Regions from separate parts of the Homo sapiens genome. Here region 2 is linked to region 1. A link means that fine-mapping ties the variant in region 1 to the expression of a gene that starts in the linked region. Tissue or cell type: cerebellar hemisphere. Region 1 holds a variant in brackets; the other region holds the start of a gene. All regions are shown on one strand. Distances are from middle to middle.

What was found. PIP is the estimated chance that this variant, and not a neighbour inherited with it, causes the effect.
Region 2: SBF2 starts here. The variant in region 1 is fine-mapped to the expression of SBF2 in cerebellar hemisphere (GTEx, PIP above 0.99).

What each region holds. Positions count from the first base shown.
Region 1 is chr11:10,347,133-10,355,311 of GRCh38, forward strand. The region is part of intron 2 of CAND1.11 (a long non-coding RNA gene); the gene reads left to right. Among named protein-coding and RNA genes, the nearest start is that of CAND1.11, 43 kb to the left of the region's middle. RefSeq lists enhancers at 4,065-6,021, 4,732-5,262, 5,263-5,794, 6,326-6,857, 6,858-7,388. The variant C/G (reference allele first, on the strand shown) is at 4,876.
Region 2 is chr11:10,289,477-10,297,655 of GRCh38, forward strand. It overlaps SBF2 (SET binding factor 2), which reads right to left and starts at 4,743. Exons shown (of 40, transcript NM_030962.4): 1 at 4,539-4,743. The coding sequence starts at 4,593. RefSeq lists silencers at 4,141-4,280, 4,321-4,400, 4,431-4,710, 4,831-4,880.

The DNA of each region.
Region 1 (8,179 bases):
AAAAAATTGAAGCACGTAAGTTCTCCCATTTCCAACCAGCTTCATCTCTACTCCCATCCCTAGCAGAATCATAATCCTCAGATTGCTGTACCTCTTTCTTCAAAATTTCTTCTCTGCATCTACAAATGCATATTAGTTTTCTATTACAAAAATCCTTCCAGGGGCTATTCAAGTGAGGCCAGAGAGGTGACATTGCCATATAAGTTAGAAAAACCAGGACAGTGCTGACTTCAAGTTTTCTATCTCCATAAGCCACCAGAACACCTGGAAAATATCAATGTTTTAGCATCCAAACTATAACTTCCAGCCTGCCTTTTGTAGTCTGAAATATCAGGAAAATAATATTTCATTGATACAGTTTAATTTTCCACTTCAGGTGTTTTAAACCGTGTATACAACTTTTTGTCTATGATTATTTAACTGTGAGAGACAGAGGATGTTGAAAATGATGTTTCTGGGCTTCAACATGTGGAAACTCTCAATTTTTTTGTAGTGAAGTTCTCTTCTTTGAGTTCTTGCCTTAAGTTTCAGTTGTTTGAAGGTAGTTTCTGTTGAAGAGACATTATCTTTGAATAACAAGCATCATATTTTTTGTCCTGTGTTGTTTCATTTTAAGTTGAAAATCACATTGAGATCTAAGAGCCGTTGAAATTGGCACATCATAACATTTCCAGCAGCCCTATTGCACCTGTTATCATATCTAAAAATGTGTATTAAAATAACCCTCTGTTGAAAAGACACAGCTCCAGGGTTAGGATTCCTATGGCAATCAAAGTATTAATTTTGGGAGTTTACAGTGTAACTTGCAAAAACATATGCAAATTTGTTTTATCATGGGAGGCAGAATTGCATGACAGGTTTTAGAATGAGAAGGTATGGGTTCTAATCCCAACTCTGCCACCTAATGACTATGTGATTTGGAGCAGGTTACTAAATCTCTGTGCCTCACTTTGTCATCTATAAAATGGGAATGTTATTGTGAGAATTAAGGAGATAATACATGTAAAGCATCTAGAACTGTGTCTGGTACACATTACATATTAAGTAAATGTTATCTATTATTATTATCTGTATCAATTTGAAATCTATGTTAATTAATTTCTCTTCCCTCTCAACCTGCATCTGTGTCTTTTTGGGTAGTTCCCTGTAACAAGTTGGTTGAAGAGGAAAAATTCCAGGCCTTGTTTAAAGATGGTTCTGTCCAATATGCTGGCACTACCCAAAAGTAGGTGGTTGTACCGTTGCAGTTCCACCACAGCATGGCCTTGAAAGACAGGGTGAAGGAAAATCTTCCCAGTGGACAGTATGAATCTATATTGACTTAGGGTAGCGGCTAATGGTTTGGCTGGATGGTCAAACCTTAAAAGGATCATGATTAAAAACCTGGTGGCAGGGAGAGCTGAGAAAGAGGTTTGTAGGTAGAATGTTACGAATTTGCACGGAATGGGAAGATAGTATATCCCATGTGAATGCTCACCAAACAGCAATCTTATCAGAAGAAGATCTTAATAAGTAGGTGGATGAGATTGCTGGTTTTGTGAACATTTGTTACCCTCTTTCCCCAGGTTCCCCTTTTTTGTTCTATGGAAGCCACATAAAATGGTCCATAGGGCTATCTGGGGGCTCAGCAACATGGACTTTGAATCACCGCTGCTGAGTGTCCAACCTGCCAACAGCAGACATCAACACAGCATTTATTTGGCACCATTCCCTGGGAGTACCAGTTTAGCCACCTGGTGAAAAGTTGATTATAAAGGATCACTTTCATCATGGAAGGGACAGAACTTTGTTCTCACTGGAATGAATAGACACTTACTCTGGATAAAGATTTGTTTTTCCTGCTCACAATGCTTCTTCCAAAACCACCATCCAGGGATTTACAGAATGTGTTATTCACATGGTGTTTCACAGAGCATTGCTTTTGACCAGGGAACTCACAGCAAATGAAGTGTGGTAATGGGCTCACGCTCATGGAATTCACTAGTCTTGCAAAATACCCCATTACCTCGAAGCAGCTGTCCTGATAAAGTGGTAGAATGACCTTTTGAAGGCATAGTTACAGGGCCAGCTGGGTGGAAACACCTTGTAGAGCTGGGGCAGTGTCCCCTAGTATGTAGCGTATGTCCTAAATTAGTGACCAACATATGTTGCTGTTTCTCCTATAGCCAATTTTTCTGGGTTCAGGAATGAAGGAGTGGAAATGAGAGAGTTTCTTCTTATTATTAAATTTAGTCATCCACTATGAAATTTTATCTTCCTATCTCTAGAACTTTAGGCTCTGCTGGTTTAGAAGTCTTGGTTTTCAGAGGAATAATATTTCCTCCAGGGAGCACAGCAACTGTATCATTAACCTGGAAGTGAAGATGACCACCTGGCCACATGGGCTCATCATGCCAGTGAATCAACAGGAAAAAGAGAGGGCTACTAAACTGGCTTGGGATAACTGATCCTGACTATTAAGGAGAAATTGAATTTCTCTTCAGAGAAGTTCTCTTAGAGGCTGGTATGACCCATATATCAAGGCCAAGTCTGCTGGATTAGACCTGTAGTTAGTTAAGACTCATTAATGGCAAGGCATAATGTCCTAAATCAAACCAGCTTGAGAAAAATGAGGTATTTACTTACAGAATTGTCTCTTGGAACTCAATGAAGTGGAACCAGCCCTCAAATGCTGGTACAGCTCCCCATATCCTGTCTCCACTTCTATCTATTTGCACACCAATTTCATTCTTTGTTCTTACTGCAGACTGATTTCTGCTCCTCAGTTCATGTGGCTGAAAACATGGCTGCTAGTAGTAACAGCTTTAGCTACCTGGAGACTAATTTCTTTCCTATTCCAGTGGCAAGCTTTCTGGGAAAGGACTCTGATATGTCAAGCTTGCTTCAAGTGCCTGGGGGAGAGGTCATATTGTACCAACATGTGGCTTCCATGGAGACGTCATGGATAGAGTTGGTTGATCAGGAGGTTGGGGATGGGTGGGGAGGTGATTGTGAGAAAGTCTGTTCCCAGAAAAAGAAGGGAGCTGGGCTGACAAATTATGGGGCTCTATTACTAAGTAGACCCATTTTTATACCTAATAATAATTACAAATATAAATAAATAAGTGGTAACTAATATTTACAGCATTTACTCTGTTAGACCACATACACATATATGATGTTTAGCACAACATAGGGTTCTGAGAATTTAATGATTGTGTCTGTGTATATATATACACAGTGTGTATACATGTAATCACAGTCTTTAAGGTAAGTTTAATTTTTGTCCCCATTTTATAGATGAGAAAACTAAGACTTGGAGAGAATTAAGTAACTAGTCCAAGTAAGTAGCTAAGCTTGAACTTGAACCCAATGTATTTGTTTCCAAGGGCTGTCCTTGTAACATGACACTTGAGTCCCTTCCCCTCATTCTCCAGGCTCTAGGCACCCAGTCTCACCACCAGATTCCAGAGTGCTGACTGGGCCCCTGAAGCCCTCATTGGGTCCTGCTAAATGCTTTCTCTGGGCTGGAATTTGCCCCTGGGCCCCAAGTGTCTGACTCTGTTGGATAAATTGAGTCCAAACCTCTGTTTTTTTAATATGTAAAAATGGATTGCTATAAGGATTATGGAAGCTACATGAGGGCAGATATTTTTGTCTATCATGTTCACTGCTAATCTCCTGCACCCAAAACAGTGCTGGGCACTTGACAACTATTTGTTAAATGAATGAATGAGACAAACTGAGGCTCACAAGGATTTTGCTTAAGGAGTAATTGGATATTCTTGCCTTTTGGCTATGATTAGGCTTTTGTGTGCGGGGTTAGGCAAGTGACAGGGGAAGACGTGGAGGGGATTTTGAAGAAGCTGTGTATATGGGGAGGCAGAGAGAGAAATAGGGAGAGAGAGAAAGAGAGAGAGAGGAAACTGTCACAGGGAAGTTAGAGAGAATGGAAAGGGAGAGAAGGGAGAAGACAATGGAGGTGTTAAACTAAGTATTTTTTTCAAATTTATCTATGTATTTAATTGACAAATAAAATTGTATGTATTTATTGTGTACAACATGATTTTTGAAATTTGTATACATTGTGGAGTGGCTAAATTGAGTTAATTAACATATGCGTTACCTCATGTACTTTTTTTTTGTGGTGGGAACACTTGAAATCTACTCTCTTAGCAATATTCAAGAATGCAAGACATTGTTATTAACTATAGTCACCGTGTTGTACAATAGATCTCTTGAAGATTAATATTTACCTGTGGTCTGCAATATAAATGTCCCTTCTATGTCCCCATGGAGTCAGTGGTAGAATCTGCATTATTCACTATTGCTTTAAAGGTATCTTTGTGAAGTGCTGGCCTTAAGGCAGGTCCAGAGTAAGGCCATGGGGCTGAGCATACTTGGGGTATAATTAAATGAGATAAGGTAAGTTAAATCTCCACCCAGCACCTGGCCCACGGAAGCTAATCAGTAAATATTTCCTTGGGAGCCCATGACCTTGGCTGACCTCGTGTGTGTCCCTTCCCACAGCACGGGGCTCTTTGCATGCCGGGAAGTCTCAGAATGTCTGCCTCCTTGCTAAGCCGATTTTGCAAGGAGTCTTCTTGATGGTATCACCAAGCTCTGAGATATGGAGACTTTGTGCCACTTCACTCTAGGCAGAGTTCCTTCATGCTGTGTGAGGTAGGAGCACACACGCTCACCAAAGAAAACACCCTTTAGCCTGGTTGGGAGACTCCCGGGTTAGGCGCTGATGTAATTTGTTTTCACAAAAACTGTAGCAGCCTTCTGAGTTAAGCATTTGCTCAGCTGGTCTTTGCCAGACGACAGATGCTTTGTGTCATTGCCTGTTGACAGTGGCCTTAGTCACACATTGTACCTCAAAGGCTGAAACAT[C/G]CCAGGGTAAAATGATTATGAGGAAGGCGAGCTGCTCCAGAGATCTGGAGGGATCACGTTGGGTACCCAGCCGGGCTGGCCCCAGGGATTCTACTCCAGGTGTAAGAGAATTGGTTAAACAAAGGAAATGACAATCAGTTCAGGCCCTTACTGTGATTGGGCACGAATGTTCTCAGAGCTGCCATAGATATTTTAATCAGGATGTCCTTTTCACTTGAATGAGAGGAATGCAGGTTCTATATTTACTTGTTTGTCCCTTCTATCAGATTGTGAGGCCCAAGGGGGCAGGCGCCTCTAACTGATTCATCAGCCTGTGCCTGCTGCGTAGCACAAAGCCAAGCACAAAGCCGGGCACAAAGGACTCACTTGGCGAAAGTTTGTGGGATGGAAGAATGAATGCGGTGTCTTCCTCGGAGTCCCCTCTTTTCAGGCTCCGCTTTATACCCTTTCTCTGGCGCAGGTCCCTGCTCACTGCAGGTGTCTCCTAAGAGCTTATGTCCCTATGTTTCCTTCTCATCCTGGAAACGGAAGTTTATTTTGAAGCCTGCTCTATTGTTCGTCCGGCTTGTAATCCCAAACTGAATGGGACTGATTTGTTGTATGCTTGGCTGGTCTTCACAACGCATGTTTTTGTGATATGTAACATTTCCTTTTAGATCAAGTGTGGCCTGGTATAGTTGCAAGGGCCAGAGCGTCCAGGGCAGCTGGTGTTCTGAATTTCAGCCTTCCCATTTTCTATTGTTTTATTTTTTTAATTATTATTATTATATTTTATAGAGATGGGGTCTCCCTGTGTTACCCAGGCTGATCTCTAACTCCTGGGCTCAAGTGATTCTCCCTCCTTGGCCTCCCAAAGGCATGAGCCACCATTCCCAGCCCCATTTTCTAATTGTGTAATTCAGTAAATTGGATTTCATAGAACCTCAGCTTCCTTTGTCCATAAAGTGGATATAACAAGGTGAACTTGGCTGAGATTAGACCCAAATATTTTTGGATCACTTGAGAAGTAAGTAGAGACTGAAAAAGAACTGTCATTTGTAATCCGTACACATTTTTGTGTTTCTAAAAAGAGGAAACGTCTCAGAAAATGCTTCTTATAGGCCGTATGCAAATATAGAGAAAAAAATCTTACCTTGGGATGGGGGAAGTTCTGCTACTATGACTCCAATAACTAAAATGTTTGGCAAAATTGTGTAAAATGTCAACATATTAGGCAGAGTTGATCTCTTCAAAAGGTTTTATTTGGAGCATTTTATCTTTCTTTCTCTTTCTTTTTCTTTGTCTGTCTCCTTCCCTTCTCTGCCTTCCCTCCTTTTCTTTTCTTTTTCTTTTCTTTTTTCTTTTTCTTTCCTTTTCTTTTCTTTTTCTTTCCTTTTTCTTTTTCTTTTTCTTTTCTTTTCTTTTCTTTTCTTTTCTTTTCTTTTCTTTTCTTTTCTTTTCTTTTCTTTTCTTTTCAGATAGGGTCCGGCTCTGTCACCCAAGCTGGAGTGCAGTGACACAATCATGGCTCACTGCAGCCTTGACCTCCTGGGCGCAAGCAGTCCTCCCATCTCAGTCTCCTGAGTAGCTAGGTGTATAGTTATGTGCCACCATGCCTGGCTATTTTTTTTATTTTTATTTTTTTGCAGAGATGGAGTCTCACTATGTTGCCCAGGCTGGTCTCAAACTCCTGGGCTCAAATGATCCTCCCACGTCAGCCTCCCAAAATGCTGGCTTTATAGGTGAGAGCCACCATGCCCAGCCTAAAATTTCCTATGTATTTACAATGCCATTTGTCACTTTATTATTGCTTGCTCTTGAAAATTTTTTAACGGATAAGCCATTTTTCTTTTTTTCTGAGACAGAGTCTTGTTCTGTTGCCCTGGCTGGAGTGCAGTGGCATGATCTCTGCTTACCGCAGCCTCAATCTCCTGGGCTCAAGCGATCCTCTCACCTCAGCTTCCTGAGTAGCTGGGACTATAGGGGCACCATGACTAGCTAATTTTTGTATTTTTTGTAGAGATGAGGTTTTGCCATGTTGCCCAGGCTGGTCTTGAACTCCTGGGCTCAAGCAATTGGCCCACTTTAGCCTCCCAAAGTGCTGGGATTACAAGCGTGAGCCACTATGCCAGGCCGAATAAGCCATTTTCCAACTAGACAATCATAGAAACTCAAGAGCTGAGACACTGAAGATGGCTAGACAACTGTATAACCATGATCATAGACTCATGCTAGAGGAGAGAATGGGGAAAAGAACTTAACTGGGCTTTATGGGACTCAGCATTGACTGGGCTGTTATTATCACACACAGTGTTCTATGGTTAGAATGCTTGTTATGTTATTGTTTAGAAGTTGGAGTTTTCCACGAAATAGACACATTAATTCTCAGGCCTCCTGGAACACGATCAATCCTAAGGCAGGAAATAAAGACTAAGGACATGGAGCTTAGGTTGAAGTGTGAGGGAAATAACTGCCTCCTTGATCTGAACCTCAAGGATTTGTAGAATGAAGTATCTTCCCACTGTGGGGAGGCAGGCTGGCCCTTCCTCCATGGCAGCAGTAGAGAGCAATGTAGAAGTCAAACCCAGAGACTGGGGAATCTGGGCAAAGGTACTGAGTTTCAAGTTTCTCTCTGTTGTAATTCTCTTTTCTCTCCAAGCCTTTGGTAATGTCTTGTTAAAAGTTTCAGCCTAGTCTGCTTTATCACAACAGGGAAATGGTGGAGGAGTCTGTACAGCCCATGCTGGGGCACAACAGTGGAGTTAGGAAAGTTGTACCCTGAAGGAAGCAGGTGTTCAGACATAGGAGTCCCCCATGTGGGGCCAGGCAGCTGGCAGAGATGAAAAGTACAGAGGAAATGGGTGGACCACGTAAGTGTTCCCCAGCGGAATTGGATAAAATCCTGATTTCACGAAGTCAAGTAGGATGAGGCTCAAGCTACAATGATGGTGCATTAAATAGAAGCATGAGTTTACAAACTGGTGAAGTCTGACATACTTGAGTTCTATTAGACACTAATGTCTACTTCATTCAGCTATAAAGGACATACTATTATAGTCAGATCTCACTAAATAAATAAATTCAATTCATAGCTATGATCGTAGCTACATTTCCAGTATAAATTTAATTGATCGATCTTTGAGATTCCTTCGTGTTCAGAAGTTCTGTGAGTTTATGGGGTACTGGAAATACCACTGGAGTCAGCCCCGCCCGAGTGTCCATTAGATCCCCCAACCACATCCCCCTCATTCACTGTCTTCTTTCCCCTCAACTGGCATGGAGTGTGGGGCAATACAGGAATGTTTCAGAACGTGTAGCCAGGGCA
Region 2 (8,179 bases), 58 kb before region 1:
CGCTGGGCCCAGGCCAGTATCTAGGGCAGAGGTAACATCTCTACGAGCTCCCCCTCACCCAGCTTGTGGCCCTGCCTAGGGGGGTGCCTCCAGGAGCAGACTGTGGGCCCTGGGCCCAGCCCTTGGGAGTGTCAGGCCTGGCAATCACCCTGATGCAGGGTGGACCCCAGGGATGCGGCCCTAGGCGGCCCTGCTCAGAGCCTACCCCTGAGGCACAGGAACCCGGTGCCCTCGGCAGGGTGGGTGTGGTGACCACGCTGCTGGCTGGGTCCCTGAAGCAGGCACTGCTCCCACTTCCGGCCCCAGACCCCCATATCACACCTCCAGCTCCGCCTCCTCCTCACACCCTCCCCGCAGCATTGGTGGGCAAGAGTGGTGACACAGGGCCAGGGTCAGGAGCTGGGGAGGCTCCGGGCCTGAGGGCAGGTCCTGCCCAGAGGCACAAGGGCGGGGGCAGTACAGTCGGCTGCCTCAGGGATGCAGGGCACAGGGGACCCACCAGCATCATTGCTGCTCCCATAGCCGCTCCTGACACCACCGCCCGCACCTCTTCGCTGCCATCAACATGACAAAAGAAGAATTATCCCAAGTTAAAAAGTTATACATTTCACTGTTGACATTCTACAATTTATACAAGCTTCTGGATTGTATTACTTAAAAAATTAATCTTCCTTCTCCTTCCCTTTTCCTGCTGTGAGAAGAGCAGTTGTCATGGTACCCCTGGGGTGGAGGTGGATCCCTGGGGTGGAGCTTGTCATATTGTCATAGACCAAGAGAGCTAGGGAAGGAGTCTGTGTGGTAGGGGAAGAGGCAAACATTTTGCTTCAGAGCCCAAGCATTAAGGCAGGAGGGGGAAACTGGCAAAGGGCACTGGGGTACAACAGAGTGAGAAGGATATCTTCCAATGGAAGCAACTCACTGGGGTGTGTCAGAGTCTGAGTGGGGTACGAAGTGTGTCCACCGACAGTGGGGAGACCAACATGAGGAGTCATAACCAGAGTGCTGGGGAGGGTGTCCCTGTATGGAAGCATGCTGGTATGGACTCTTAGATCCAGACTGGGGTAGGGGGATGGAGGAGATGGAATGAAGAATCCAAGTCCCAGCAGGGAGAGGAGTAGATGGTAGTGAAGATGGGAGACTGAACAATAAGTAAATACATTCAGGATAACAGAAGCCAGATTTCTCACTGTCAGAGAAGAACGTTACAATATGAAAAAGGAGAACACTAGAATAGATCCTGGACTATTTGACTGAAATTGGAGGTATCAGTATGAATTCATAGTTTTCAATATACAGAGATAATAAATAAATATAGATATAAATGCATATGTATGTTTATGCATACATACCTATACTTACCAGCCCTGACCATTAACAGGACCTGGAAGGAGTAACAGCCCAACAGCAATAAACACACTAGCCTTGAGATCTTAGCTTCTAAATGTCATTCTCCACTAAAAGGAACCAGGGATCCCTAAATGGCTGATTACAGAACCAAGGCATGGAAAGTACAAGATGAGCCAGGAACAGGTTCTTGTGCCAAAAAGTACAAAGTTGTTCTCAAAGAGTGATGGGGATGTACCATAAGAACACAGAAGCCAGCTTGTACAACTCTCATTGGCCATATAAAGAACAATTTGAACATCAAAATAAATAATGCTATAGTCTGAATGTGTATGTCCCCTCCCAAAATTCGTATGTTAAAATCCTAACACCCAAAGTGATGGTATTATGAGGTGAGGCCTTTAGGAAGTGATCAGGTCATGGTGGTGGAGTCCTTGTGAATGGGATTAGTTCCCTTTTTAAAGAGACCCCAGAGAGCTCATTTGACCCTTAAGCCATATGAGGTTAAAGTGAGAACATGGCTATGAGGAAGCATGTCCTCACCAGACACTGAATCTGTCAGAGTCTTCATCTTGGATTTCTCTGCCTCCAGACTGTGAAAAATAAATTTCTATTGTTTATAAGCCACCCAGTTTGAGGTATTTTTGTTATAACAGCCCGAATGGACTAAGGCAAATAGTAACAGAATATAATCCGCGAGCTCCCCTTTCTGGTCTCACTTCGGCTGGATGTGCTTAGACTCTCCTATTTCCCACTCAAGCCAGTGCTTCGGGCAGGTGGGCTAGTGACTTTTTCCGAATAGACTAAGGCAAATAGTAACAGAATATAATCCACTAAACACACACACACACACACACACACACACACACACACACACAGACTCCATGTAGATGTCAATAAATGATTAAGAGTTTAGTGAGGAACAAGATATTTACATAGTTTCAAAGTACATGGCAAAAACAATTAAGTATTAACTTTACAGTGGAGAAGCCTCGCAGATATTACTTATATCAAGTAATCAAAGTAAAAATAACCAACAATGAAACAAAGTGAAATTGTGCACCACCTGACAGGATGCAGTGAGCATCACTTCTGTGATATCCTTCCCACGTGCATATTCGTATGTATCTAATCATGAAGGAACAGACAATCCCAAATTGAGGGGGCAGCCTACAAAGTGACTGACCTGTAATTGTTAAATATGTTAAGGTCATGAAAGTCAGGAGAAGATAAAGGAAATGTTCCAGATTGAGGGAGACAAAAGAGACATAACATGAATGCAACACATATTGCTAAACTGGATCCTTTTGCCAGTAAAGAGATTACTAGCACAATCAACAAAACTTGAACCAGTCTGAGAACTAGATGGAGTACTGTATCACTATCCATTTCCTGTTTTGGTTATTACACTGTGATCATGTAGGAGAACATTCTTGTTTGCAGAAAATGCACATTAAAGTATTCTGGGATGACAGGGCATCAGGTCAACAGCTTCCTCTCAAATTGTTGGGGGGCGGGTAGAATTTTTTGTACCATTCTTGCAACTTTTTTGCAAGTCTGTTATTGTTTCAACATTGTTGGCCGGGCGTGGTGGCTCAAGCCTGTAATCCCAGCACTTTGGGAGGCCGAGGCCGGTGGATCACGAGATCAGGAGTTCAAGACCAGCCTGGCCAGGATGGTGAAATCCCGTCTCTACTACAAATACAAAAATTAGCGGGCGTGTTGGCGGGCGCCTGTAAATCCCAGCTACTCCGGAGGCTGAGGCAGAGAATTGCTTCAACCCGGGAGACAGAGGTTGCAGTGAGCCAAGATCGCACCACTGCACTCCAGCGTGGGCAACAGAGCAAAACTCCGTCTCAAAAAAAAAAAAAAAAAAAATTGTTTAAAAGTGGGGAGGGGGGGAGGCGGAACAATGTCACTAAAAACTAAAGGTTAAAAAACTGATTTCCCACACTTAATCTTGATAGAAAAGAAACATCAGACTATGCCAAATTACTAGGAAATAAAATTTTGGATCCAGAAGTTTAAACATTTAAACTTTCTCTTTAACAATTGACCTCAATCAGGTCATGACTGGTGAAAGAGAAAAGAACATGAAAGGTTCCCACTAAAGGAGAGGAAGTTCTTAGGAGAGGAATAATGAAAGAGAGAGTGGACCAAGAGTGGGTAGAACAATGGTATTCTGAGCTACCAATGGCTGTAACCATCAGGAAAACACAATCTCAGCATCTCTGAAAAATGAAGGGGCTGTAGAGCTGATATCTCAAATTCCTTGCAAATGTGGGACTAGAATTGCCCTAAAATAGAAGTGGTTTCCCAGCTCAATTTGTTATTACATTATGCTTAGCTACATAGTAATACAAGAGAATACAAATACAGAAATAAACGTGCATGAACCCTGAATTCTCTTAAGTTGTGGAAGTCCGTCAATTAAAGTGTAAAATACAATGCATTTGCCCAATTGTTCCTTACGACGAAAATTCTGTGACAAATAAAAAGAACAATGAAAACACATTAAAGTGAAACAAGATCACCTTCAGCGGTCAGCTGGCTGTCCTTAGTTAAAAGACAAGTCATGTCACTGTGAAGTGACCGTCACATTTGTCCTGAAAGAATAGGGAGCATTTCCTAGAAAGGGGTAAAAGTGCAAAGAATCCTGTCCCCTTCCCTGGTACCACGCGTTCCTTGGGGAGGTCACTAGGCCCCCAACAGCACAGGGGTGAGTTAGCACTGGACTCTCAGCACTTCCTTTCGGAGAGGACAACCCCCTGCGTCACTGGTTACTCACTCAGGATGCAGGGCAGAAGTTTATCCCCGAGGAACTTAGCACAGTTGGCTCCCGCCCTCCCAGCCTTGCGGTCCTGGGCCCAATCTCAGGGCTCTCTCTGCCCCGGGTACCCTGCAGCCTCCAGCGGGAGGGTCGCGAGACCCCAACTCGCCTCCGGCCCGCCCAGCGGGTGCGCCCAGGGGCTGGGCAGACGCGGCGTCTTCCCTCCCCCTACCGTCGTGCCGGCCCCCCCACGCCCACCGCCAGGCTCAGCCCAGCCGAGAAGGCCGGACGCCGACCGCCCGCTCCTCCGAGACTCGGCCTGGCCCTCCCCGACGCCCGTCCCCGACGCCCGGCCCCGCGGAGCCCACTGGACAGCGGCCGGGGGGCGGGGAGGCCCGGGGGCGGTGCCGCCCCACACCCTTACCTGGCTTCTCGTGGTCATAGCCTACCACGATGAAGTAGTCAGCCAGCCGGGCCATGGCCGCCGCCGCCGCGCTCGGGAAGCGGGTCCCCGTCGCCGCCCTCGCCGCCGCCGCCCACCCGGCCCGGGAGGGCTCAGCATTTTCCCTGCAGCGGCAGTAGCGGCAGCGGCAGCGCTTCAGCCATGTTTGACAACCGAGGCGCGCTCTGCGCTTGCGCGGCGCCTAGTGCCCGCTCCTCCCCCGCCCCCACCCGCGCTGGCTCGGCTGCCCCAAGCCCGGGCGGCGAGCCCACCTCCACCCTCCGCGGGCCTCGCGGACTGCTGCGCTGGGGGAGTGGGCGGTCGGGCGTGTTCCCGCCACGCGCCGCCACCGCGGCCCCTGGAGGTGGTTCACTTTGAGGCCTGGATGCTGCTTCACGGCCCCCTCTGCCTCCCTATTTTTCCTAAAGCAGGGGGTCCTTCCTTCCGCCTTCTCTATTCTGTTTGGATTTGGAAGAAGGGATGTGGAGAGTTGAGGGGTCACTTGGAAAGCTGGCTGCTTCCTCTGCTCCCCACCACCACCAAAGATGAAATTCTCCCGCCCTCGGTTGGAAGCAAGGAATTTGCATCGACAGGGCTTTTGCTGCACGTTTCCTGTTTATGTTGTGTAGATGGGAATTTTAGAAACATGCCACCGAGCAGACGGGGGAGGGAGAGGCTTTTACGCAATCCTCCAAGGAGCCTCGGGTTTCAATGCCGGGTGGGCCGGGGGCGGTCGGCCTGGGCTTCCCCCGGAGCGCCCGGGAGAGCCAGATTCCACCGAGGAACGCGGCATCCCCGGGATCCTCCCGAACTGGGCTGGCCTCTCCCTGGGGAGCCCCGCACGCCTCGGCTTGCTTCCCTCGCAGCGGTCCCAGGGCTCTCGCAGCCCGAGCAGGTGGACTTCCAACTTCCCTGCTCAAACATGCACAAAAATGAATAGATGGTCCCGTCCTTCCGTCTCGGGATTATCAAAGTCGCTTGCTTTTTTGTTGAACCTCCTATTGACCATTTCGAATTTGGCTGGTGTGACATTCAGGTGAACTCACTTTGTCATTTGTTAATATCTCACGAAGTTTTAGTAGAATTTGTACAAGTGGTAGACCAAAGTTTTGGAAATCTCCGTGGTTTAGAAGTTGTCTTTGTGGTTGCTTATCACTGCTCACTATTAATTGAGGGTTTGATCCTTCATATTTACACATAAGACAAGGCCTCTTAGCAAAGCGTCTAGTATATAGTAGGTGCCTACAAAATATTTTAAATGAGTAAATGTGCGATTTTCCCCAACGACCAGCAGGAAGCCGCAATGGCTCCAACTCTGAACTGAGAGAGTTGACATCTCAGCTCCTGAAGATTTACTCTGCTGTAATTTACTATTTCCCCTTTCTCTGCCACACTTGTTTCATCTACAAATTGGGAGGGTTGGGCTGCACTAGAACTGAAACTGAAGGAATACTTTAACTCCAGGACCTCTATGTCAGTTGCTAATGGTAAAACTGAATCAGCTGAATTTGCAAACGTGGAGGGAAGATAGTTTGATCCTGAAAATAATTAAACCAAAAAAAAAAAAACCTCAGTCATACCCCGTGCAGCAATCCTCTCTGTAACTTCCCTGAGAGCTCATCATCCAACTTGATCACTTTCAGTAAAAAGTAATCTTACTTCCTTGGGAGGCAGCGCATTCCACTGTTTAACAGCCCTATTGTTAGAAAGTTCTTCCTTATTATTTCAGAGTTGTCTTACTGTAACTTCCCCTGATTCTGCTCTCCGGAACTATCCAGAAAAAAAAAATCTATCTTCATATGATAGATTTTTAAGGCAGCTATCATATTCCTTCCCAACTTTTCTAAAAATAGGGCAAAATTCACATATTGTAAAATTAGCCACTTGAAAATGTAGAATTCAGTGGCAATTAAGTACATTCCCAATGCTGTACAACTACCATGTCTATCTAGTTACAAAACATTTTCATCACCCAAAAGAAAACCTCACAACCATTAAGCAGTCATTCTCATTCTCCCCTCCCACAGCCCCTGGCAATCACCATTTTGCTTTCTGTCTCTATGGATTTACCTATTATGAATATTTCATATTCATATCATACAATATGTGGGTTTTTTGTGTCTTGGTTTTTCTCACTTAGTATATTGTTCTCAGCTTGTTTACGGGCAGATACAGTACAAGGTTGTAGCATCACATTGAAGTATCAATACTTCATTATTTTTTATGACTCAATAATATTCCATTGTATATTGTGTTAGACTGTTCTCACGGTGCTAATAAAGACATACCCGAGACTAGGTAATTTATAAAGAGAAGAGGTTTAATTGACTCACAGTTCCACATGGCGGAAGGCAAGGAGAGCAAAGCGGCAGACAAGAGAGCTTATGCAGAACTCTCCTTTATACCATCAAATCTCATAAAACTTATTCACTATCACCACAACAGCAGGAGAAAGACCCGCCCCCATGATTCAATTACCTTCCACCGGATCCCTCCCATGACAGGTGGGAATTATGGGGTACAATTCAAGATGAAATTTGGGTGAGGACACAGCCAAACCATATCATATGTATATACCATATTTTGTTTATCTGGAACAACCCATATGGACATATGGGTTGTTTCCACCTTTTGGCATTGTGAATAGTGCTGCTTCAAACATGCATGTACATGTATTTGAGTACCTGTTTTCAATTTTGGGGATATATTCTTGGGATTGGAATTACTGGATTAAGTAGTTCTGTTACTACTGTTTTCCACAGTGGCTGCATCATTTTACATTTTCACCAGCAATGCACTAGGGTTCTGATTTCTCTGCATCTTTGTCAACTCTTGTTTTCCTGTTGTTTATGTTTTGTTATAGCTATCTTAGTGTGAAGTGATATCTCATTGTGGTCCTGTTTTGCCTTTCCCTAAAGACTAATGATGTTGAGGATCTTTTCATGTGTTTATTGGCCATTGCTAAATCTTCTTTGGAGAAATGTCTATTCAAGTCCTTTGCCCATTTTTTAATTGATTCTTTGTCTTTTTGAGGTTGAGTTGTAAGAGTTCTTTATATATTCTGGATACTAGTCCTTGTCAGATATATGATTTGCAGATATTTTCCCATTCTGTACGTTGTCTTTTCATTTTCTTTTTAAAATTGTTATGCCCTATTCCCCCCCCCAAATATTTCCTATTTTTATTTTATTTTTCATTTTATTTTTATGTAGAGATGTTGTATCATGATGTTGCCCAGGCTGGTCTTAACCTCCTGTCCTCAGGCAATCCTCCCACCTAGCCCTCCCAAGGTACTAGGATTAGAGGCATGAGCTTCCACACCCAGACTTCATTTTCTTGATAATGTCCTTTGGCTCAAAAAAGTTTTTAATTTTGATAAAGTCCACTTTTTTAGTTTGTTTCTATGCTTTTAGTGTTATATCTAAAAAATTATTGCCATATTAAAGGTGAGATGAAGATTTACTGGTTTCCTTCATAGTTTTAGCTCTTTAGTACTTTGACCCATTTTGAGTTAATTTTGTAGTGGTAAGGGGTCTTGTTTTACCTTTTAAATGTCTTGGCTTTTATTTCATTTGCAAGTACTCATTTAAATTATTTTAATTTTTTAAAATCAAAGTTTATTG